Linked DNA regions of Homo sapiens. The protein of the gene in region 6 interacts with the protein of the main gene of each other region in a pairwise test. Each region holds a gene or a part of one and is shown on either strand. Other genes may lie near its edges. The genes, in order: SAMD3, BOK, DBF4, RGS20, MFHAS1, HSPD1 and CHAT.

The links.
Region 1: the proteins of HSPD1 (region 6) and SAMD3 interact in binary tests that used the Homo sapiens proteins (3 or more experiments, as listed by UniProt).
Region 2: the proteins of HSPD1 (region 6) and BOK interact in binary tests that used the Homo sapiens proteins (3 or more experiments, as listed by UniProt).
Region 3: the proteins of HSPD1 (region 6) and DBF4 interact in binary tests that used the Homo sapiens proteins (3 or more experiments, as listed by UniProt).
Region 4: the proteins of HSPD1 (region 6) and RGS20 interact in binary tests that used the Homo sapiens proteins (3 or more experiments, as listed by UniProt).
Region 5: the proteins of HSPD1 (region 6) and MFHAS1 interact in binary tests that used the Homo sapiens proteins (3 or more experiments, as listed by UniProt).
Region 7: the proteins of HSPD1 (region 6) and CHAT interact in binary tests that used the Homo sapiens proteins (3 or more experiments, as listed by UniProt).

Annotation. Positions count from the first base shown.
Region 1 is NC_000006.12:130,149,952-130,153,451, forward strand, and holds part of SAMD3 (sterile alpha motif domain-containing protein 3), read right to left. Parts: intron 1-3,500.
Region 2 is NC_000002.12:241,568,745-241,571,687, reverse strand, and holds part of BOK (bcl-2-related ovarian killer protein), read right to left. Parts: intron 1,564-2,943; coding exon 1,400-1,563; intron 1-1,399.
Region 3 is NC_000007.14:87,882,993-87,886,492, reverse strand, and holds part of DBF4 (protein DBF4 homolog A), read right to left. Parts: intron 1,515-3,500; coding exon 1,335-1,514; intron 1-1,334. UniProt on the Homo sapiens protein: Regulatory subunit for CDC7 which activates its kinase activity thereby playing a central role in DNA replication and cell proliferation. Required for progression of S phase.
Region 4 is NC_000008.11:53,939,872-53,943,371, forward strand, and holds part of RGS20 (regulator of G-protein signaling 20), read left to right. Parts: intron 1-3,500. UniProt on the Homo sapiens protein: Inhibits signal transduction by increasing the GTPase activity of G protein alpha subunits thereby driving them into their inactive GDP-bound form.
Region 5 is NC_000008.11:8,883,631-8,887,130, forward strand, and holds part of MFHAS1 (malignant fibrous histiocytoma-amplified sequence 1), read right to left. Parts: intron 1-3,500. UniProt on the Homo sapiens protein: Probable GTP-binding protein. Functions in innate immunity and more specifically the inflammatory response as a regulator of the Toll-like receptor TLR2 and TLR4 signaling pathways.
Region 6 is NC_000002.12:197,489,841-197,493,340, reverse strand, and holds part of HSPD1 (60 kDa heat shock protein, mitochondrial), read left to right. Parts: coding exon 1-17; intron 18-3,044; coding exon 3,045-3,144; intron 3,145-3,500. UniProt on the Homo sapiens protein: Chaperonin implicated in mitochondrial protein import and macromolecular assembly. Together with Hsp10, facilitates the correct folding of imported proteins.
Region 7 is NC_000010.11:49,662,537-49,666,036, reverse strand, and holds part of CHAT (choline O-acetyltransferase), read right to left. Parts: intron 3,393-3,500; coding exon 3,255-3,392; intron 1,261-3,254; coding exon 991-1,260; 3' UTR 1-990. UniProt on the Homo sapiens protein: Catalyzes the reversible synthesis of acetylcholine (ACh) from acetyl CoA and choline at cholinergic synapses.

The DNA.
Region 1 (3,500 bases), on a different chromosome or scaffold from region 6:
TACTCAGACTGGATAATTTCTATTAATCTATCTGCAGATTCACAGCTCCTTTCTTTTCATTTTCCAATATGCTTTTAAGCCTACGCACATGGTGATGTTTTCATTTCAGATAACTGTTCTTTTCAGCTCTGAATTTCAATTTGGTTCATGTGTGTGTGTGTGCGCGCGTGTGTGTGTGCGTGTATTTCATTTCTCTGCTGAGATTCCCTATGGTGATGATACATGGAATTTACTGGTCTTATCCTGTTCCCCACCGTCCTGTCCTGAAGCAGCTGGCTTGCCAGACTGGTGGAGTGGCCTGTTGAAGACTCAGTTACAGCACCAGCTAGGTGGCAATACCTTGTGGGGCTGGGACAAGGTTCTCCCAGGCTGTATAAGCTCTGAATCAGCATCCAGCATACAGTGCAGTTTCTTCCATAGCCAGAATTCATGGGTCCAGGAACCAAGAGTTGGAAATGGGAATGGCGCCGCTCACTGTAACCTCTAGTGATCCACTAGTGGGGAGTCTGGATTAAATTATGTTCCTTTAAAGGGTGTTAAATTTTGTTCTGATAGGCAGATAAATTATGGTGGATCTTCTGGTCCTGTCAGACTTGATTTTATCATTTCTTTCGGCAATTCTGTTTTGTTGTTTGTCCTTAGTCCTAGCTAAGGTCCTGGCTCAAACTTAGGCATGGTTCTCACTCATGAGGCATTGTTTTCTGGAGTCTCAGATGAATGCTGAGGTGTTCTGCAGGGTCTCTACACACTGGGCCAGAATTCTTTTTTTTTTTTTTTTGAGACAGAATCTCACTCCATCGCCCAGGCTGGAGTCCAGTGGCACAATCTCGGCTCACTATAGCCTCTGCCTTCCAGGTTCAAGCCATTCTCCTGCCTCAGCCTCCTGAGTAGCTGGGATTACAGGTGTGTGCCACCACACCCGGCTAATTTTTGTATTTTTAGTAGAGACAGGGTTTCACCATGTTGGCCAGGCTGGTCTCGAACTCCCGACCTCAAGTGATCTGCCTGCCTCAGCCTCCCAAAGTGTTGGGATTACAGGCGTGAGCCACCACACCTAGCCTGAATTCTTATTAGCAACACTGTGTGAAGTCTCGGCTCTCAGCCAAGGATCCCCAGGGGATCCGTGTGTAGACTTCGGCCCAGCCCACTTTCCTCCAGTGCCTGTCCTACAAAGGCCAGCTGCTTCATCATTCCTCAACTTTAATCTCTTCCTGTGCAGCTCCATGAGACCTCCGCATGCTGCTTGCCTCCCACCATTCTGTACAGTGAGCTAGAAAGTAACCCATGCACAAAACTGAGGCACATCTTATGTCTTTCCGTTACCAAGGATCAGGGTCCTGCATTGCCTGTACCTTAATGCCTGAGTGCAGTTGCCTCATACATATTTTTTTTTTCCAGCTTTATCCATGTTAACAGTGGGAAGACTAGACCAGTACCAGTTACTCCATTTGGGCCAAAACCAAACTCAAATTCTTTATTTTTTAAATTTATTTATTTATTTATTTTTAACACGGAGTTTCACTCTTGTTGCCCAGACTGGAGTGCAGTGGCGCAATCTCGGCTCACCGCACCCTCCGTCTCCCAGGTTCAAGCGATTCTCCTGCCTCAGCCTCCTTAGTAGCTGGGATTACAGGCATGTGCCACCACGCCCGGCTAATTTTGTATTTTTAGTAGAGACAGTGTTTCTCCACGTTGGTCAGCCTTGTCTCGAACTCCTGACCTCAGGTGATCTGCCCGCCTCGGCCTCCCAAAGTGCTGGGATTACAGGCATGAGCCACCATGCCTGGCCGATTTTTTTAATTTTTTGAGACTTTATTAGCTGGCGATTCTCACGTACTTCACTTAAAGAGATGATGATTGAAATTGTTTCTCAGGAAGGCAGAAACTATGGCATCTGAAAGGATTTTTTGGAAAATTTGGGGAAGGGTTTCAGTTTGTGTTTGGTATTTTCCTTCTCAACTCCCTCCTACTTGTCTTGTGCAACATCCAGTAGATCCCAGTAACACATTCCTAGTTGATAATATTTTAGATAATCTAATAAAGTAAATGGTTACATTCTGAATTTTTAAATGCCTTGTTGAAAGAAAGTTTTTTGAGGAAGGAGGTTAATGAGCATGGAGGTGATGGGGGGTCAGTGTTAACAGCCAGGACCACCGCCCACCCCGGCTGCTGCTGTTCTGCCACCCTGTCTCCACCAGCTCCCTAAGCACTCAGTGTTTTCACAATGGCAGGAGCAACAGGCGGTGGGGGTGGTTTGGTGCAGGGACAACTGTCCTCTTACGGGATCATTTGTTAACTAGGTATTTGCGAGGTCAAACTTGCTTTTATTTTAGGAGGCACACAAGAGTTTTATAAATTGGAAATCCCAGCTGCCTAGGGCTGAGTCAGGGAGGTACTTCCTGGAAAAACCGAAAATGATTCGTTCTTTTGTCTAAAACAATCAGGTCGGGCACGGTGGCTCACAGCTGTAATCCCAGCACTTTGGGAGGCTGAGGCAGGTGGATCACCTGAGCTCAGGAGTTCAAGACCAGCCTGACCAACATGGTGAAACCCCATCTCTACTAAAAATATAAAAATTAGCCAGGCGTGGTGGCGTGCATCCGTAGTCCCAGCTACTTGGGAGGCTGAGGCAGGAAAATCACTTGAACCTGGGAGGCAGAGGCTGCAGTGAGCCAAGATTGTGCCACTGCACTCCAGCCTGGGCGACAAAGTAAGACTCTGTCTCAATAAATAAATAAATAAATAAATAAAACAATCAACAGGCAACTCTATTCAATAAGTACAGTCATTACAAAAACCATACTCCATATTTTGGATATAAAGGGTGAAATACTTGAGGAATGGTGCGGAAGATACACCTATGCCACAGCAGGAGGCCTGGACAAAAGCACAGGGGACAGCATCAGGTCTGAAATCTCTCTGCTCCTCACATAAGCTATGACAGACCTCCACCTTACTGTCACCAATGGTTCTTTGAAAAGCTGCTTAACATAGTCCATTTATATTCATCACTAAGCCTTTGTAGGCCACACTCCAATGAAGACCCCTAAGGCTACGACATTAGTGATCACAACAGCCTTACCAACCTCCACTAATTCACTCAGCATTCACAAAATCAAGATTACATTGCTGTGTCACACGTGGTGCTCTGCTAGGCACTTTGGGAACTGTTAATATTAACACGTGCTCCCTACATGTAAGGAGTGTATAGACCGTAAGTTTGACAGGCTTTTGCTTTAAAACTGTATTTTGCAGATGTGTCCATTTGGCATACTTTTCTAACAGCCAGAGATGACTGGCTATTACAGTTCCTTACAACCTGAAGATTAAGGGGAAACAAGCGAAAGCCACAGTATGGTTGCTGAGAGGATTAGGTAGATTAATCCGTGGAAAGCACTGAGAACATGCTGTTACAGAGAAGCATTCAGATATTTGCTACTTATGTTTCTATTAAAATAATACAGGCAATTCTTATTTCCCTTTGCTCAGAAGAAAAATAT
Region 2 (2,943 bases), about 44 Mb from region 6:
CCTTGGCGTTGCTCAAAGTGTCGTCGCCCACTGGGCACACAGTGCCCAGCCCCATGCCAGACTCCACAGGAGGAAGACAGGAGGGGACGGAAGTCTTGGGGTTTCTGTGCTGAGGGACACCTGTAGCCATGTGCGACATCTTGGGACATTGCCCTCTGCACCCCCAATTCAGCCTTCAGAGGAGACCACAGCCCCCGCAGACCACGTGACCTCAATCTCTCGAGATGCTAAAGCTAAGGCCCCAGCAGAGGGGTCTGAGCGCTGTCACCCCTGGCCGCTGATTTACACACCAGGCCAACACCCGCTGTACAGGAAAGAAGGCTAGACTCTCGGCAGGGGAGCCACCCTCCACACCCAGGGCCCAGCGGCAACTGCGGTCTGGCCGGAGCAGGGCAGGAAGTTGGGGGCGTGGAGACAGAGGAAGGGTTTGGCTCTGACACCCACCCCTCGGGGCCTTGCTTTTCCCACTCGGGAGGGCGGGGGCTGGGGCAGCGGGTCCTTAGCACAGGGGTAGGATCGGGGGTAAGTCAGTGCTGGATCTGGGCAGAGGAGAGTCCAGGGCCTGCCTGTAGGTCTCGGCCCTTGCCCCACCCCCTGCCTCACCCATCTCCCCCAGGAGTGCTCAGGTGACCACCCATCCGCCACTCCCTCCCGTACCTCTGCACCCTCGCACCCCAGCTCTCCCACCCCCACAGGCGCTCAGACACTCACCCATCCGCCACTCCCTCCTGTACCTCTGCACCCTCGCACCCCAGCTCTCCCACCCCCACAGGCGCTCAGACACTCACCCATCCGCCACTCCCTCCCGTACGTCTGTACCCTCGCACCCCAGCTCTCCCACCCCCCAGGCGCTCAGAGGCTCACCCATCCACCACTCCCTCCTGTACCTCTGCACCCTCGCACCCCAGCTCTCCCACCCCCACAGGCGCTCAGACACTCACCCATCCGCCACTCCCTCCCGTACGTCTGTACCCTCGCACCCCAGCTCTCCCACCCCCCAGGCGCTCAGAGGCTCACCCATCCACCACTCCCTCCTGTACCTCTGCACCCTCGCACCCCAGCTCTCCCACCCCCACAGGCGCTCAGACACTCACCCATCCGCCACTCCCTCCCGTACGTCTGTACCCTCGCACCCCAGCTCTCCCACCCCCCAGGCGCTCAGAGGCTCACCCATCCGCCACTCCCTCCCGTACCTCTGCACCCTCGCACCCCAGCTCTCCCACCCCCCAGGCGCTCAGACACTCACCCATCCGCCACTCCCTCCCGTACGTCTGTACCCTCGCACCCCAGCTCTCCCACCCCCCAGGCGCTCAGAGGCTCACCCATCCACCACTCCCTCCTGTACCTCTGCACCCTCGCACCCCAGCTCTCCCACCCACACGGGCACTCAGGCGCTCACCCATCCGCCGCGTCTCCGCAGCCAGGTTGCCAGGGTCTTGCGCACGAACTCCCCCAGGCAGTCCACGAGGGCGTGGACCATGGCAGGCTGGGCCTGCCTCACACAGTCCACGGCCAGCCCCGCGGCCACCGCATACAGGGACACCACCTTGCCCCACGTGATGCCTGCAGGGAGAGAGATGGTCAAGATCAGGACTTGAATCCCGCCCACGGGAGCACTTAAGGAAGGGGCTGGGCCTCTCTGAGCCGCTGTCCTGCTTGCCGTCCAGCTAATGACCAGGGACCGTCCCAAGGGGGGACCGCTCCCTGACAGGATGCCTGTCAGGTAGTTCTTGGGCAGGCAGGTTTCTCGGCCTCCACTGCACACCTGCCCAGCCCACGTCTGTGCAGGAGGCCGCAGGGACAACGTGGGGTGAGGCGAGGGAACTGAGGGCAGCAGCAGATGGAGTGAGCAGCCAGTGACCTCACGGGTGGCACCCCTGGGCTGCCTGTTCCCACAACAGGCCTGGCGTCCACATTTTACACATAAAGAAGCTGAGGCCCGCAGAGAAACTGCCTTCCCCAGACCCCTAACCTGCTGAGGCTGAACTGAGATGGGAGCAGCCTTGAAAGAGAGGACGAAAGATGGTGACAGCGGGGGAAAGAATAAAAGGCAGGACACGACGCCTCAACACGGAAAGACGTCTTATACGTGAGCGAGAAAAGAGAGGCTTTCAAAAAAGAACTATGAGCACAGAACTGGAACAGCTGATTCACAAAAGAAAATTATAATAAGAGACACGAAAAATGTTTACCTTCATTAATAACCAAAGAAAGGCAAATTAAAACAAAATGTAATCTGTTGCATTAAAAGCTTTTACGCCAGGCGCGGTGGCTCACGCCTGGAATCCCAGCACTTTGGGAGGCCGAGGCGGGCAGATCACAAGGTTGGGAGTTCAAGAGCAGCCTGACCAACATGGTGAAACCGTCTCTACTAAAAATACACAAAAAATTAGCCAGGCGTGGTGGCACGCGCCTATAATCCCAGCTACTCGGGAGGCTGAAGCAGGAGAATCACTTGAACCCGGGGAGGCGGAGGTTGCAGTGAGCTGAGATCGCGCCAGTACACTCCAGCCTGGGCGACAGAGCGAGACCCCGTCTCTAAATAAATAAATAAATACATGCTTTTAAATGGCAGTGTGAGGATTCAGGCCACTGCACAGCCTTGTAAACCTTGGTGGGAAGCCCAGCTTGAGGGCACTGGCAGTATCTGAATGGCCACAAAACATGCAGCCCAGCAGTGATCCCCGCAGGGAGTTAGCAGCGGTCCCCGGAGGGAGTCAGCAGTGGTCCCTGGAGGGAGTTAGCCTGAGGACACTGTACATGCAAAGATGAAGCACTGCTCTCCAATCCACCCTCATACAGCGGCCAACCTGGATTTGTTATGAAAACATAAATCAGCTCAAACAAACACTCAGTCACAGACATTCACAGCAGCCAATTCACAATTGCCAAAAGGTGGAAAGAACCCAAGTATCCTTCAACAGATAAATGGATACAAATGTG
Region 3 (3,500 bases), on a different chromosome or scaffold from region 6:
TGTGATCTCAGCTCATTGCAACCTCTGCCTCCCGGGTTCAAGTGATTCTCCTGCCCCAGCCTCCCAAGTAGCTGGGACTACAGGCACGCACCATCATGCCCGGCTAATTTTTGTATTTTTTTTAAGTAGAGATGTGGTTTCACTATGTTGGCCAGGCTGGTCTTGAACTCCTGACCTCGTGATTCACCCACCTCAGCCTCCCAAAGTGCTGGGATTACAGGCGTGAGCCACCGCACCCAGCCGTTACTTCACTTTTTAAATAAAGTACTAGGAAAACTCGTTGAAATGCCATAACCAACAATTATTTTGGAATCGCTGGTGTATTGTCTCCTTGCTCCAAAAAAGCATTAACTCAGAGAATGCATGGTCCTTTCTTGATCTCTTTTCCATTCTTTCTTCTATGTATTGTATCTCTTTTTTCAAGTGATAGCTCCTTTCTGACTCATTTCTTCTGTTTTCTCCTCATTTTCCTTAATTTTCAAATGGCTATAATAGGTAAGTCGAGGAGAATATTGTAAAATAATAACTTAATTACACTTCAACCTAAAAACTGAAATAAACATTTTATCTCTCATTTGATCCTATCCCACCTCACACCCAATTAAATCAATTTAATTTGTCTTTCCTTGCATCTTTCAATTTACTGGCCATGGAGTGGTAGGGATGTGATTTCAATAATTCTAGAATAGGGGCTGGCAACCTTTTTATGCAAAGGACCAGACAGTACACATTTTAAGCTTTGTTGGCCATATGGTCTCTACAGCAACTATTCAATTCTGCCTAAAACACAACAACTACAGATTATACCTAAACAAACAGGTATGGCTGTGTTCCAATAAAACATTATGACAATGAAATCTGAATGTCATAAAATTTCTACTTGTCACAAAATATTCTTTTGATATTTTTACACAACTATTTGAAAATGTAAAAACCATGCTTAACCTGCAGGTTGTACAAAAAAGGCAACAGACTAGATTTGGCCCATGGGCCAGAGTTTGCTGACCCCTGCTCTGAAAATTAAAAAGGTTTCTATTTCTTCTTCAAAGAATGATCTGCTCTTAACTTTTTAGTTGTAAATTATTCTAAAAACTACACGCCATCCCTAAATACAAGGGTATACCTAAGCAATCAGAGTATGATTACACAAGAACTATTAGGAAAAACCCACCTTCCTAAAAGACAGCAACTTTATTGAGGACTAGAGAGCCACACATCATGTGGCTTTGCAAATGTTCTACATAAGTAAACTCTACTGCCACCTTGCTATTAAAAACCAGGAGATCTTCAGGATATAGCCCTTCTGAGTCTCAAAGCATATTTAAGAGACTTACTGTGTCTGGTGACTTAAATGAACTTCCATCATGGCTGGGATGAGGTGAAGTGGTTTCTGCAGTATATGCAGATTCTGGACTTGGTACAGGAGAAATTCGACCCAAGGTTTGTGCAAATTTAGCTTCCTTCTTATTTGAAATAAGATAACTGATATCTTTGCTGAGAAATTCTTCAACTCGCTAGAAGAGAACAAAGTATTTTTATTTATAAATTTGTTTTAAGAAACACGGTCTCACTGTGTTATCCAGGCTAGAGTGCAGTGGCACAATCATAGCTCACTGCAGCCTCAACCCCCTGTTCTCAAGTGATCCTCCCGCCTTGGCCTTCTGAACAGCTGGGACTATAGGCACATGCCACCAAGGTATTTTCAACTAGGTCATAAAAACCATAAACTGTTTCATATGCCAAGCACAGTAAAAAATTTCAATTTGATGCAATTATTTCGTAAATTGGTGGTTTTTATACTGTATTTTTCTGAACCTAGATCTCTGAGGAAGTATAAGAGCTCCTATAACAGCACAACAGCAGCATGTGCTGGATACTATTCTTAAATACTTTATATATGTTAATTAACTTAATCTATGGAACAGCCTCATGATACTATCTACATTTTCTGCAGGATAAAAAGTGAAGAGAGGTGACTTGCTTAATGTTACCCAGTAGCAAATAATATAATTTGAACATAGGCATTCTGACTCAAGCCCATGATCTAAAGCAGCAGTGTCCAATACAACTTACCAAAGCATTTGAAATGGCCTTGGTAGTGTGATTAAGCCACTGAATTTTTTGTTTCTTAAGAGATGGGGTCTTGTTATGTTGCCCAGGTTGGCCCTGAACTCTTGGGCTCAAGAGAGCCTCCTACCTCAACCTCCCAAGTACCTGAGAGTACAGGCACACACTACTGCGCCTAGCTCAAGCCACTGATTTTTAAATTTGATTTTAAAGACTTTAAATTTAATAGCCACATATCACTAATGGTTACCATAGCAGACAATACAAGTCTAAATCAATCATTATTACACCTTCCCTTGAGGCTTCAACTTACAGGATGGAGGGAACCTTTACGCTTAAGAGTGTAAGACTGTTTGAATAGAATTTCTTTACTAAAATGTTTGAAAACCACCGCCTAAGTATCTGAATTTACTTATAAAGACATGTACCAAAGTGAAGGTTATTAAAGATCGCCAGGGTCAGGAAAATAAAAATAGGGAGAAGTAAATACTAAGTAGAATTACTAATATTATTAGAAAAATACATAGTATAAATATGTATACTATAAATACCCACTAAGCAGAAGTAAACTGTGAATCATTAATAAGCAGTAACAATTTACATCCATGAAAGACTTCTCAGAATATTTTAAATAGCTGTATCTATTTTCTATAGGATCCCACACTATAAATGATAATAAAAATGAAGTGTGTAACAGATAAGTTAACTTCATCTAAGCATTAAGCAGCATTTGCTACTGAGACCAGTGGCCTCCTTGGTTAAGTGCAAATCATTTCTTTTCCGACCAACATTCATTTTCATTGAACAGTAAATAATGTACCTACATTTATTTATTCCAGGGATTAGACTCAAATGCCTATAAGGGCCAGGCAATAATACAAATAATTCACACATCAAATACTGCCTTCATTTTCATAAATATGAGGCCCTAATAATGTCAGAGGTTCTAATTTTTCATAAGAAACCCGATCTCCTATACACTTTTATTGTGATAAATATAAAATTAGCCATTTTAACCATTTTTAAGTGTACAATTTAACGGCAGTAAGTACACTCACATTATGCAACCATCACTACTAAAACATTTCTATAACTTTTCCATGATCCCAAACTGAAAGTCTGTACCCATTAAACAGTAACTCCTCATTCCTCATTTTTCCCAGCCCCTCATAACCTTTATTCTACTTTCCATCTCTGAAATTGGCTATTCTAGATAACTCATATAATGGAATCCTACATTTGTTCTTTTGTAACTGGCTTCCTTCACTTAGCACGTTTTTTGTGGTTCACCCATGTTGTAGCATGTATTAGAATTTCATTCCTTTTTAAAGCTGAATAATATTCTATTGTATGTATATACAACCTCTTCTTTATCTATTTACTTGTTGGACATTAAGGCTGTTCACACTTTTTAGCTATTGTGAATAATAAAT
Region 4 (3,500 bases), on a different chromosome or scaffold from region 6:
GGGACACCCAAGAAATAACAACAGGCTGCATCTGTCTAGCTCTCAAGGGGTTTATGCTCAGATCCCTCAAATCAGGCCAACGTGTGTTAAACAACTAAAGAACAACCTCAGGCGGTTCACGATTGACTATCAACATTTGGGCAGAAATGGTTAGAAAGAATTGGACTCGAGGCACTCCTGTGGTAATGAAGGCTTAGGATCTAAGATAGGTCTTAAAGGTTAGGGCGATGAAGTAGAGGGAGCCTGGATTTTACCTTCTGCTGCTTCCATTTCATAAATTTTGTTTTGTAATAAAGAGAAATGTCAAAATATGTGTTTTAAAGAGAGAGAAATATTAAAATATATGCTAACTTACTGGGTAGAGGAAGACACACAGACAGTCATTGCTTTAAAAAGGAAAGAAACGACTTGAATGTAAAACATCTGTGACCCTTTGAGTAGCTGTTAAAGGTCTGGAGAAAAGGAGATAATTTACACCTAAAAATCATGGGAACTTTAGGTTACATCTTTGGAATCTTGGATATGAAAAGTGCTTAGTGCCAGCCAAGTTTGTGAACCACTTTCAGCAATCAAATCATCCTAAATTTATGTAGGCTTGGCAGTAAGTTAGACCAAGACCTCACTGTCTGCTGGAAGAGAAGAAAAACTGATAATGGACTGATCACGAACCGTGAAATGGAACTAACAGAACTGATCCCTGGGGAGGAGAGTGGAGTTGAAAATGAAATGCCCGGGGAAGTTTGGTGGCTCCTGCCCAACTCAGGCTAGTATTCATTTCCAAGAAGTTCCAATCTGGTGGAAGGGACACAGCAATAGAACATCCACCAAGGGGATCCCGATACCGATGGTCTCTTCATTCCCACAGCAAGAGGAAACGTGGCCATGGGGCTGACAAGAGCTAGGCAGTGTCAAGGTGAGACTTCAGCCCCTGGTAGGAATCTGGACAGCTCTGCAGGAAGCCAGAGGAGAGGCGCTGGTGGTGGGCAGAGGAAACACGTGGGTGTCCAGGGCCTGCCCTAAAGGAGGAAGACACCAGTGATGGCCAGACTGCATTTAGGGGCCTATATTCTCACTCTGCCAGTAGGTCTCAGTGGGGAAATGAGACCATCCTCCTAGAGATGTGCAGGATGTCCAGGTGCAGGTGAGACTCCAGCTGACGTTCAAACCTTCCGCTCCCTCCTTTCTCTGCTGCCTCACGCAGGGTGTGGGAGGCGGCTGACATGCTGACCTGAACAACGTATTGTCCCGGGATAGTGTAAGGCTAGAGGGCGGGTCAGGTCCCAGAGCAGGCTCCTCCTACAGGTAACAAGTAGGACGAATAAAATAAGTATCTGTACCTAAGACACTATCATCACCATCATAGCCAACACTTCTGTAGTACTTAGGTGTGTGTAGAAGAGACAATAGAGCAATATCTTCAAAGTGCTGGAGAAAAGTAACTGAAAACTCCGTCAAACCATAATTCAAGAGTGTGGGTAAAATAAGACATTCTCAGACATACGAAGGCCAACCGAGTTTACTGCCTGCAAACCTAAAAGAACCGAAGAAAGGGCCTACTTCAGAGGAAAAAAAGGGAACCCAGAGGAAAGACTCAGGAAACAAGTAACAATCATAGATACAACGGGGTCAAATATTGATATAAAATGTGGCAATGAATTTTGTGTTAAAAAGTGTGAAACCAAAGCTGTAAACAATCTCATGTCAATGACATACAATCAAATAATTCAGACTTTCTTAGAAAAAATTATTAAAAGAAAATTTTCTTTCAAAAGTAATGTTATTCATAATTAGTCCAAAAATACACCCTATAGTTTTAACATCAGTGAAAGACAATAAATCTAGAAAACCTTACCAACACGTGATAAAAGTGACATCAGCAAAGGAGAAAATGAACTATTCAGTAAATAGCAGGATACTTGGTATTTGGGTACCAACTCATCCCCACTGATAGGACTTTCTCAGTTTTAGCACTGAAAGGTCCCATAGCCCAGAAAACCTGAAAACCCTAGGCAAACCAGGAAAATTGGTCATCCTGCTTGGTATCCAAATATATAAAAATGTATTTATATTCCTACATAGCACCATATACAAAAATCAATTCCCACCTTAAAAAAAAGATCAGCTGGGTGCGGTGGCTCACGCCTGTAATCCCAGCACTTTGGGAGGCCGAGGCCGGCAGATCACATGAGGTCGGGAGTTCGAGACCAGCCCTACCAACATGGAGAAAACTCGTTTCTACTAAAAATACAAAATTAGTCAGGCATGGGGGCACATGCCCATAATCCCAGCTACTCAGGAGGCTGAGGCAGGAGAATCGCTTGAACCTGGGAGGCAGAGGTTTCGGTGAGCCGAGATTGCACCATTGCACTTCAGCCTGGGCAACAAGAGCAAAACTCCATCTCAAAAAAATAAATAAATAAAAAATAAAACACAAAAATTAGCCAGGCATGGTGGCGCACACCTGTAGTCCCAGCTACTCAGGAGGCTGAGGTGGGAGGATCGCTTGAGCCCAGGGAGGTTGAGGCTGCAGTGAATGATGATTGTGCCATTGCACTCCAGTGTGTGTAACAGAGTGAGACTCTGTCTGAAAAACAAAAACAAAAAAAAAAGAAAAGAAAAACCTATACCCTGGAAAAACTTCTCACACCCCTGCAAAAAAAGGAGACATGTATGAGAAGATTCACTACAGCATTCATCTGAGTGAGAAAAATTTAAAATGGTTCTAAAGGGTATAGACAGGAGAATGGATGAATATATTGTGGTATAGTTATACAATCCACTACCATACAGCACTTAAATTCATATACTAGAAAAACAAAACTAAACAAATAAATAAGTTAGGCGTGGTGGCTTATGCCTGTAATCCCAGCACTTTGGGAGGCCAAGGCAGAAGGATTGTTTGAGCCCAGGAGTTCGAGACCAGCTGGGGCAACACAGCGAGACCATGTCTCCACTAAAAAAAAAAAAAAAAAAAGTTAGCCCGGCATGGTGGCATGTGCCTGTAGTCCCAGCTACTCTAGAAGCTGAGGTGGAAGGATCACTTGAACCCAGGAGTTCAAGGCTGCAGTGAGCTATGATCATGCTACTGCACTCCAGCCTGGGCAACAGAGTGAGACCTTGTCTCAGAAATAAATAAATTCATATGCTAGAGGGAAAAAAAATTATAAAGCAATACATGTTACATAATTACATTTATACTATGTTTAAAAATATGTTTATGAATATAATATAGTAGCATAATTATGAATTGGAATGGTAAACAGTAAGTTAAAAATGGTGGCTCTCTCTAGGGTAAAGAGAGGAAGAAATGAGATGGGGAAAAGTACACAGCAAACTTCAACTGTTTTAATAGTGAATTTCCTTGTTTTTTTTCACCACACTTTTGAGATTTATCCATATTAATATACATAGTCAAGTCAATTTTCAAGAAAAGTAAATGGCAATTTCTTTTCTAAGTACTTGTGAATCTTTCTCAACATTTTGCTGTAAGGCCTTCTGGT
Region 5 (3,500 bases), on a different chromosome or scaffold from region 6:
CCAGGAGGTGGAGGTTGCAATGAGCTCAGACAGCGCCACTACACTCCAGCCTGGGCAACAGAGCGAGACTCAGTCTCAAAAAAAAAAAAAAAAAAAAAAAAGAAAGGGCTCCCATGGATAGAAGCAAGTTAATAGGTAGATGAGAAGAAAAACAGAAATGTCCAATTCCTCCTTTCCCCACTCATTCCCCTCCTATAATACAGAGTTAAAGCCCCTCACCTCTTCACGGACAAAGGGGAATAACCTCAGAGTATGACATAAAATATCCACTAAATAAAAAATACTGGTTGGGTATGGTGGCTCACGCCTCTAATCCCAACATTTTGGGAGGCTGAGTGGGGAGGACCATTTGAGGCCAGGAGATCAAGACCAGCTTGGGCAACATAAAAAGGCCCTATCTCTATTTCACAAACACACACACACACACACACACACACACACACACACACACAAAAAGAAAAAAAAAATTAAAGAAAAAATACTTTAGGAAATTCTAAACTACTTGTGCAGAGATGGACTTAAGAGTCTATTCCAGGGTTTAAAGAAGAGGCACCTAATATTTAAAATAATTCAAATACTCCAAAGGCCTTTCTAGCCTTCTAGAACTCTATTCTGCACAGTATTTGTTTATCCTAGTGCCTGATTAAGGTTTTGATTTTTACATAAAACAAAGTCCCAGGGAGTTCAGAGGCCTATTCATAAAAAGAAAAGCCAAGAAGCATCAATATTAATAAAGCTTAACCAAAGAGATATTGAAAAACCTTTGTAAAATTAAAAACAATGACTAATTCAATCCAAACAACTAGGTCATGCTCAAATTCCAGTAATTCTAAAACTTAGATATAATAAGGCAAGAATTTTGCTTTGCTTCAGTGGTCAAAATGAAGGACCCATTCAAGGGTAAGACCAGTCATAGACGCACAATGGGAATGCTGGAGGAACACTGTGAGGGGGAGGGAGTTGGGAAGCTAAACAAAGCCAGATAATCATTACAATACTACCTGGGATTTTCACTGAGTGTGTGAATAACAAAGAAAAAGAGATAGTTCTCAGGCAGGGCATGGTGGCTCAAGCCTATAATCCCAGCACTTTGGAAGGCTGAGGCAGGCAGACTTTGAGACCAGCCTGAGCAACACAGCGAAACCCTGTCTCTACAAAACAACACAAAAATTAGCCAGGCATGGTAGGGTGTTTCTGGAGTCCCAGCTACTCAGGAGGCTGAAGTAGGAGGATCATCACCTGAGCCCAAGAGGTCGAGGCTGCAGTAAGCCATTATTGCCCCAATGCATTCCAACCTCGGTGACAGAGTGAGACCCTGCCCCCACCCCCCCAAAAAAAAAGTTATTTCTCACAAAAAGACCAAACTATCATTCAGCAAACATCTGAGAGGCTCTGCAGAAGCTACTAAGTCTCGGGTGTGTCTCTGGCTCAGAAGCAGCAAGTGAACAACCTAATCAAAGATATATCATGACGCAACCAAACACCAACAAAACAAGTCAAATATGCTGTGTTGTCGGAGAGGTACACTCCGTGTGCAAGAAACTGAGGGACAGAAGACATTTGGCATGAGATACAAAAAGGCATCAAGTTACTGAGTAAATGAAAGACAGTAAAGCTAAAGAAAGCCACATAACTCATTCTGTCTACTGATTTGGGTTGCTTTCTCCTTATTTTTTAAAATGACCTTAAATAATTTGGAGAGTAGGATATTTAGTGAAAATCTGCAGTCAATGCAAGTTTAACTCACTAAGACACACTCTTCCAATTCAAAAACACAGTATTCACTCATCTGCTTAAAAGGAATATCAAAGCACTTGAATCTTGCTGCAGGCCCGTGTCCTAACCACCACATCTTAATGTACCCTCACTCAACTTCAAGAGTACCAACTCTTTGAGTTTAGAGGTCATACTGGTAGAACAGAATAAAAGCATAAACAAATATCCCACAAGAAGAAACTTGCTCTAAGACAAGTATACAGGACCAACCAATGAGAAGGAAAACAGCAAAAGGAAGGGAATCCTGGCTACCAGCTATGGGCAGCAAGTCTGCAAAAAAGAAAGGGTACCTGCAGGAAGCAGGTAAAGACTTTCTTTTCGGAGCCAGGGTCTTGCCCTGTCGCCCAGGCTGGAGCGCAGTGGCACAATCTCAGCTCACTGCAACCTCCGCCTCCCAAGTTCAAGGGATTCTCGTGCCTCATTCTTCCCAGGAGCTGGGATTACAGGCATGAGCCACCATGCCCAGCTAATTTTTTTGTATTTTTTGTAGAGATGGGGTTTCACCAGGTTGACCAGGCTAGGATGTTGGCCAGGATGGAGAAAGCAGGTCAAGACTTTCACAGTGACATTTAGGCTTCATCATAGGCCATCTCCGAGTTTCCAAAAGAATCTCCTGTCACTCAACCCATTTGTCTTAAATAAGATGTCTTAAAAAGATAATCACGTTGTCAGATTACCTATTTTAAATAAGACAAATAGGTCTTCTCTCTGACAATGTGATTTATTTTTACAAAAAACTATGAAACTAGTGATTGCTGGATGTGCATTTTCCAATCATTTCTTTTTTTTTTTTTAAGAGACAGGGTCAGAGTGCAATGGCACAATCATAGTTCACTGCAACCTCAAACTCCCATGCTCAAGTGATTGTCCCACCTCAGCCCCCCAACTAGCTGGGACCACAAGTGTGCACGCTTAGCTGATTTTTATTTTTTATTTTTTTTTGTAGACACGGAGTCTGGCTACATTACTCAGGCTGGTCTCGAACTCCTTGACCCAAGTGATCCTCCTGCCTCAGCCTCCCAAAGCAAAGGGATTACAGCCCTGAGCCACTGCACGCTGCCCATTACTTTTCTTGTATAAACCAAAATAAGAAAAGAGAAATTTACCATTATACTTCCCGTGGTCAACTACAGTAGGGCAGCTCAGGCCAGAAAATCCAACAGGACAAGGCCAAAATAGGCTTTTCACATAAAAATACTTTAAAAGATATTAGTGCAACTTTATACATTTTTTCTGTATAAAATCAAGAGAGACAGTAATTTACTATTTACTTTTACTGTAACATCCCAAAGTTAAGAAAATTCAAAGTCCAACTTTTTCAGCGTTGCATATAAAATTGTTATAGTTTATAGGACAACTTAACGCTTTTATAAAACATAAAAGTAAACAATTTTTAATGTCCCCAGAAGCAAAATGACTTCTTAAAAAGACAAAGGTGGCCAAGCCTAGTGGCTCACGCTTATAATCCCAGCACTTTGCGAGACTGAGGTGGGTGGATCATCTGAGGTCAGGAGTTCAAGACCAGCCTGGCCAACCTGGCGAAACCCCCGCCTCTACTAAAAATACAAAAATTAGCCAGGTGTGGTGGCGCATGCCTCTAATTCCAGCTACTTGGGAGGCTGAGGCAGGAGAATCGCTTGAATCCAGGAGGCAGAGGTTGCAGTGAGTCAAGATCACTCCACTGCACTCCAGCCTGGGCAACAGAGCAAGACTCCATCTCAAAA
Region 6 (3,500 bases):
ACACTCGTCTTGAATAGGTAATAAGCAGTGGTATTTGTTGATTTATATTTCTCGGTGAAAGACAGAATTATTTGTATTGCTGTTTGCAGTTTCCATCATGTGTACCTCCACATTTGATCCAGTTGGGTTTGTATCTAGAATTGTAATTGTGTAAATCAGGTGTGCTCTAATGTATCCTTATGGTTGTGTTTTTGAAGGAACCCCAAAGTCTTTACTATTTTGATCAGCTTTCTCATAGAATAGACTAATTTAGCACATGGGTACCTTTCTGTATTTTGCAAGTGTTTACAGTTGTTTTGAAGGCACATGACTGAATCTTGTATTTTTTTTTTTTGAGACAGAGTCTCACTCCCTGGCCCAGGCTGGAGTGCAGTGGCATAATCTTGGCTCACTGCAATCTCCATCTCCTAGGTTCAAACAGTTCTGCCTCAGCCTCCCAAGCAGCTGGGACTACAGGTGCGTGCCACCACACCTGACTAATTTTTGTATTTTTAGTAGAGACAGGGTTTCACCATATTGGCCAGGCTGGTCTCAAACTCCTGACCTCGTGATCCGCCCGCCTCAGCCTCCCAAAGTGCTGGGATTACAGGTGTGAGCCACTGCGCCCGGCCTTGTAATTTTTTTATTTTTTATTTTTATTTTTGGAGACAGAGTCTCTGTCACCCAGGCTGGAGTGCAGTAGTGCAGTGGCTCAATCTCAGCTCAAGCCTCCGGGGTTCAAGTGTCAATCTTGTTTTTTGTTTTGTTTTGTTTTGTTTTTTTAAGGTTTTTCTGGTTAAAAATATGTAAATTTTCAGAATATTATTTTGCATAGAACAGGGAAGTAAACAACTAACTTCCAAATAACTCAGAGCCAGGCATGGTGGCTCACAGCTATAATCCCAGCACTTGGGGAGGCACAGGCGGGTGGATCACCTGAGATCAGGAGTTCCAGACCAGCCTGGCCAACATAGTGAAACCCCGTCTCTACTAAAAATATAAAAATTAGCAGAGCATGGTGGCGTGTGCCTGTAATCCCAGCTACTCAGAGGCTGAGGCAGGAGAATCACTTGAATCTGGGAGGCGGAAGTTGCAGTGATCCGAGATTGTGCTGCTGCACCCCAGCCTGGGCAACAAAGCGAGACTCTGTCTCTAAATAAATAACTCAGATGTAAGTGTATTTCACCATCGAATATTTTTATTTATTTTGAGAGACAGACTCTGTCACCCAGGCTGGCCTGCGGCGGCACGATCATAGCTCACTGCAGCCTTGAACTCTTGGGGTCAAGCAATCCTCCTGCCTCAGCCTCCCAAGTAGCTGGGACTACACACTTGCACAAGCACACTTGGCTGATCTTTTAATTTTTTTGTAGAGACGAGGTCTCAATATGTTGCCTCAATATGTTGCCTAGGCTAGTCTTAAACTGTTGGTGAATCTTAAGTGATTCTCCCACCTCAGCCTCCCAAAGTGCTGGGATTACAGGCATGAGCCACTACCCTTGGCTGTGATCAAGTATTTAGTCTGTTGTTAAATGTTTACTAAATAGTCTGAAGTAGAGAAAATAGCACCCAATCTAAAATAAGGTGAGGTCTAGTCACTTATTTAAATCTACATTTTAAGCTATAGTTTACTATTAGTTTAAACTTTAAGACAGGTAATGTTCATGCTGCAGACAATCTAAGGGCATTATTAAAATGTTTGTTCTTCCTTATCTCAGAATTGAAGTATGTCAGAAGCAAGACTTTTCTTTCCATTTTGTTATAGTAGAAATGCATACATTAACAGGTACGTTTTAGACATTACACGTGCTCATCTGACCCAAAAGCTCTAATGAGCTGCCTTACCCTGGAATGTTTTTCTTAGCTTGGATTTGCTTTTTTGGAGGGATTAAGAAAAGACTTGGCTGGGCGTGGTGACTCATGCCTGTAATCCCAGCAGTTTGGGAAGCCGAGGCGGGTGGATCATGAGGTCAGGAGATGGAGACCATCCTGGCTAATACGGTGAAACCCCGTCTCTACTAAAAATACAAAAAATTAGCTGGGCGTGGTGGCGGGCTGAGGCAGGAGAATGGCGTAAACCCAGGAGGCGGAGGTTGCAGTGAGCCGAGATCTCGCCACTGCACTCCAGCCTGGGCGACAGAGCAAGACTCTGTCTCAAAAAAAAAAAAAAACACACAAAAAAAAGACTTGAGGCCAGAAAAAAACAAGCCTACAGAGTTTTCATTAAGCCATTTTACTGCTAGTTGAAAAGTGGGATATCCAGTTTACATAGCATATAGCTTATTCCTCTGATTTTTATTTGGGTCCTTAATAAAATAGACCAGCTGTCTTGAAGTTTGAACGTTGCTTCTGTTTCACAATCTGCTCTCAAATGGACATTTGATTACACATTCCAAGTATTCATTTACCTGGTAAAAATTTCAGGTGAGCTTAACAATACTGTCAGCTTTTTGTATAACATTTATAAAAGAAGTGAATTCAGAACATTGCTCATTCAAAACTCAGCATTAATATATGGAGATGTTTATTAAATGACCCTCAAATGTAATATTTAGTAATTACTGTTTTTCTACCATTCATAATAGTTATCACTGTATCCTATAACTTACTGTGATGTGATTTTTGCTGCTCGGCCTCCTGAGTAGTGGGGATTACAGGTGCCTGCTACCACATTTGGCTGATTTTTGTTATTTTCAGTAGAGACAGGGTTTCACCATCTTGGCCAGGCTGGTCTCGAACTCCTGACCTCGTGATCCACCTGCCTGGGCCTTGCAAAGTGCCGGGATTACAGGCCTGAGTCACCACGCCCGGCCAGGCCAACAGTTTATTAAGAAGGTAAACGGATATGGACAAGTATAATTAATAGAAAATAGCCTAAACTGTCTCAGATACTTCCTGTCTTAATTTGATCAAAAATTGCTAGGAAGCAAAAAAAAAACAAAAAAACACAAAAACCAAACCAGATTACTTAGGGAGTCCTAAGTAATCTAGTAACAGCTTGAGGGGAATTAAACAGATAGGCATTTTTATTTCATTTAAATCTTACTATCAACTATTCTTAACAGGCTAAAGGTTGGTCTTCAGGTTGTGGCAGTCAAGGCTCCAGGGTTTGGTGACAATAGAAAGAACCAGCTTAAAGATATGGCTATTGCTACTGGTGGTGCAGTAAGTAAAATAAATGTGATAATGGTTTGCTGAATGTTTATACTTGTCTGGAATTTATAGATAGTTTAACATTTCACAATTAGATACTACAACTATCTGTTTCTTTTGGCTCTTTGGAAGGTAGGGGTTGGATTAAATTCCCGTTAATTTGCCACAAGTCTGGCCTAAGAATGAGCTTACTGACTATTCTATATTGACTAAATCTTATTGACTGAATAAGGGGGTTTCCTTTTTTTTGTTTTTTTTGGAGACAGTGTCTTGATCTGTCTTGACTATTCTTGACTTGATCTATATTGACTATTCTTATTGACTTAAATCTGTGGGGTTTCTTTTTTTTTTTGAGACAGGGTGTCTTG
Region 7 (3,500 bases), on a different chromosome or scaffold from region 6:
AATTAATGTCAGGGTGGTTTTCTTAAAAATCTCTGTCTTAAAACAAAACAGATAATGGAAAAACCCAAAGTAACCATCTCTCTTCACCTACTGGAGCATGTAGGAGGGGAGGAGAGGGGAAAAGATGCAGAAAAAATGCAAATGGCAGGACCCCGGGAAGGGGCCAGGTCCTCTGCAAACCCACCGGCACCAGGCACCATCTGCTTGGGGCTGTGCAGTTTACTCATCTTGGACTGGCCCTGATGCCGCCTGCTAAGCAGAGAGTGGCAGCAACTCCAGGGCAGTCACAGATAAATTTTTTTTTCCTTTCAGAATAGCTGGACACAATTTTCTGAGCTCAACAGAAGGCTGCCCCTGGGCACGAAAGCAGAAATGTGTTTGTGGGCCCAAGTCACTATATTTTAAATGGACTTGGGCTCTGTGGTGTGTGTGGGAGGAGTGGGTGCTTGTAGGACTGTACGGCTCAGTGGAGACACTGGGAATGCCACGATAAGAATGCTCTGAATCTCAAAACACAGCCTCCTCTCCCCCAAAAAAGAAAAGAGGTAATGACCTGGAGTTAGCCTCTTCCTTCCTAACTCATTAGGTACGTTGCATGTAATAGAGTGACTCATCCTTTCCTTGGGCAGAAGCATCACCTGGACATACTAGGTCCTGCTAGGGAAGGAGACATGAACACTAAGCTTCCAAGGACCACAGAAGGAGTCCTTAGTGTGGTTCCCCAGTGCATCCAGGCTGCCTCTGAGCCAGGCAGGTCCCATTTCCCAGTGTGCAGGCCCAAAGCCACCTTGAAAATGATGATTCCCATGCATGAAGAGGGGACCCTTTCCTCCTAACACTCCGGCTCTGTGTGATGTCTCTGTATGGTCTGTGAGTTGGACCCTGAGGACAGGGAGCTGTGGAAAGCTGGGGTAAGGGACGGGAGTGGGGATCTGCAGGGTCTGGCTGTTCTAGAGGCTGGGTTTGGGAGGTGAAACCTAGTGGCAGGAGTCAAGGTTGGTGTCCCTGGCTGGGCCTCGTGGCTTTTTCCTTTGTTGCCAATGGCTTGCTCTCAGTAGGCGGCAGCAGACTGCAGAGGTCTCTCATGTCAATGAGGCTTTCTTCCACAGCTTTTGCAAACTTGCTAGAAGAAGTCTCTTTGCAGCTGTGAAAGCTAGAGATGCAGAAAAGGATGGTCTCTGGCTGGGGGTTGTAGCAGGCACCATACCCATTTGGGACCACAGGACCATAGCAGCAGAACATCTCCGTGGTTGTGGGCACCTGGAGGAGAGGACAGGTCAGGAGCTGCTTGTTCTGGAATGCAGCCCGCCAGCCTCGACTGGGCTTGGCTTCTCTGTTTTCCACCTGGGGGTTTGACTGAATTAACCAAATCAAGTGATTGCTTTAGCATGGATGGACACAGCCAGAGTCATAAAAACAGACCCATCTAACTGCATGATATCAGAGGATGAGGGGCCCCAAGCCCACTCCCTGGTGTGCAATCTGCTCTACTTGTGGAGTTGGAAGCTCCCGGAGTGACCTGGTGCTAGGTCTTGGGCTGAGTCTCCACTTCACCTGGGGGCCATTTGAGGCACGGAGGCAATCAGGTAATTTACTAAATGGTCCCCTGGTGGCACCCCATAGTTAGATGCTTTCCGGAGGGAGGAATTTATGAACTGGAGGAAATCTGGCCCATCCTCTGTGTCGATTTCCCCCAGATCCTTAATTACTGTCAGTATTGCCTGGCTTCTCTGATTTCTCCCTGCAGCCTGGCCATGCACAATTACCCAGAGTTGGGTGTTTCAAAGATTGCCATCAGTTTTACTTATGCACCTAGTATGTTTTGAATCAGAGTGCTGAGATTTTGTAATCCAGATCACAAACCAAGAAAGTATGTTTCTGAAAGCATTCAAGCCATAAATGCTGCTTTCCAGTTGGAAAACAACAAAACTCCCACACCCCAGATTAATTTTATTAGCTGGTCCTTGGGAAAAAAAATAGAAAGGATTCTTGGGCAGGTGCAGGGCCTGGTTTGTTTTAAACCTACAGGTTTCTGGTGCTGTGTGCTGAGGCCTTTGGAAGTGACACTGGCTGTTTTAATGGGGCAGAACAAACCATTAGTCTTGCTAATAGAGTCACCACATTGTCAGATAAATTTGCCGTGCAATAGCCGAAGGCCATAAAGCCATTCCAAAGCACTTTTTGCCCATGGATGATTTCCTGAGAAATTTATGGTGCTGTGTTCTGTCCTCGTTTATTCACGTCTGCATGCTCACTGCCATAATGACAACATCCCATTACTGAGTGGGCTTCTGTCCTCAAACACAGCTTATCAACTCCAGTACTGCCCATCCAGCCTTTCGCAGATGAGGTGGCATTTTAGTAAATTGATGGCTGTGGGGCATTTCCCCTCCTAAACCACGACCTCTCTCTAATGGATTGCATTCTGTCTTTGTGGCAGTGGCTCTCATACAGGACACGCTGAGGCACTGGTTAGATGTTGGGCTGGCCACGAATGTTCTGCTGTTGGTTGCGTGGCCCTTTATAATAATATCTGTGACCTATTTAGAGGGCCCTGTCCATGCCAGGCCCTGGGCTGGGCTTTCTCCCTACATAATTGTATCTGGCCAAGCCAAGACTTCACTGCAGACCTGCTGGGCATCAGAGCCCGTGGAAACCGCGGCAATAGATTGAAAGGTAGTAAGGTGTAATGGTTAGGGCACCAGAATGGGTATGTTCCTGTACTGTCTCCACCTCGGCTAAGTAGGGTCTGCTGATTACTCCCATTTAGGAGATGGGAAACCTTCTTCTTCCTTTTTTCTTTTTTTGAGACAGGGTCTCACTCTGTCACCTGGGCTGGAATGCAGTGGTGCAATCAGGGCTCACTGCAATCTCCACCTCCCCAGCTCAAGCAATCCTCTTATTTCAGCCTCTTTAGTAGCTGGGACTTCAGGCACGCACCACCATGCCCAGCTAATTTTTAAAAATAGGGAGATGAGGTCTCCCCATGTTGCCCAGGCTGGTCTCAAACTCCTGGGCTGGAGCAATCCTCCTGCCTCAGCCTCCCAAGGTGTTGGGATTATAGTTGTAAGCCACCAAGCCTGGTCAGTAAACCATCTTCTAATGAACATTCAGATCATTTTGCTGAAGATCACATAGTTCAGAAAAAGCAGAGGCAGGATTTGCCTGATTCCAGCTAGTGGGCTTGTTGTCACTGCTCTTTAGAAAGCTTACTGACTACACTACTCTTGGGCGATAGCTGCACGGGGCCGTACCTGGCTAGTGGAGAGGACAAACCGGTTGCTCATCAGGTAGGTTTCATCCATGAACATCTCGGGCAGCTCCTTGCACATGGCCCGGGCCAGCTCCCGCAGTGCCAGCAGGTGGTTGTCAATGGCCATCCCTGTTATGGCCTGTGTAGTTGGGGACAAAGAACAGGAGATGAGAAGTGGGCCTCCTGCACCTCCTTGTTCCCTGCTCTGTAGTCTACAGGACTGCTGGTGACTCCAGCAGCCACGGCT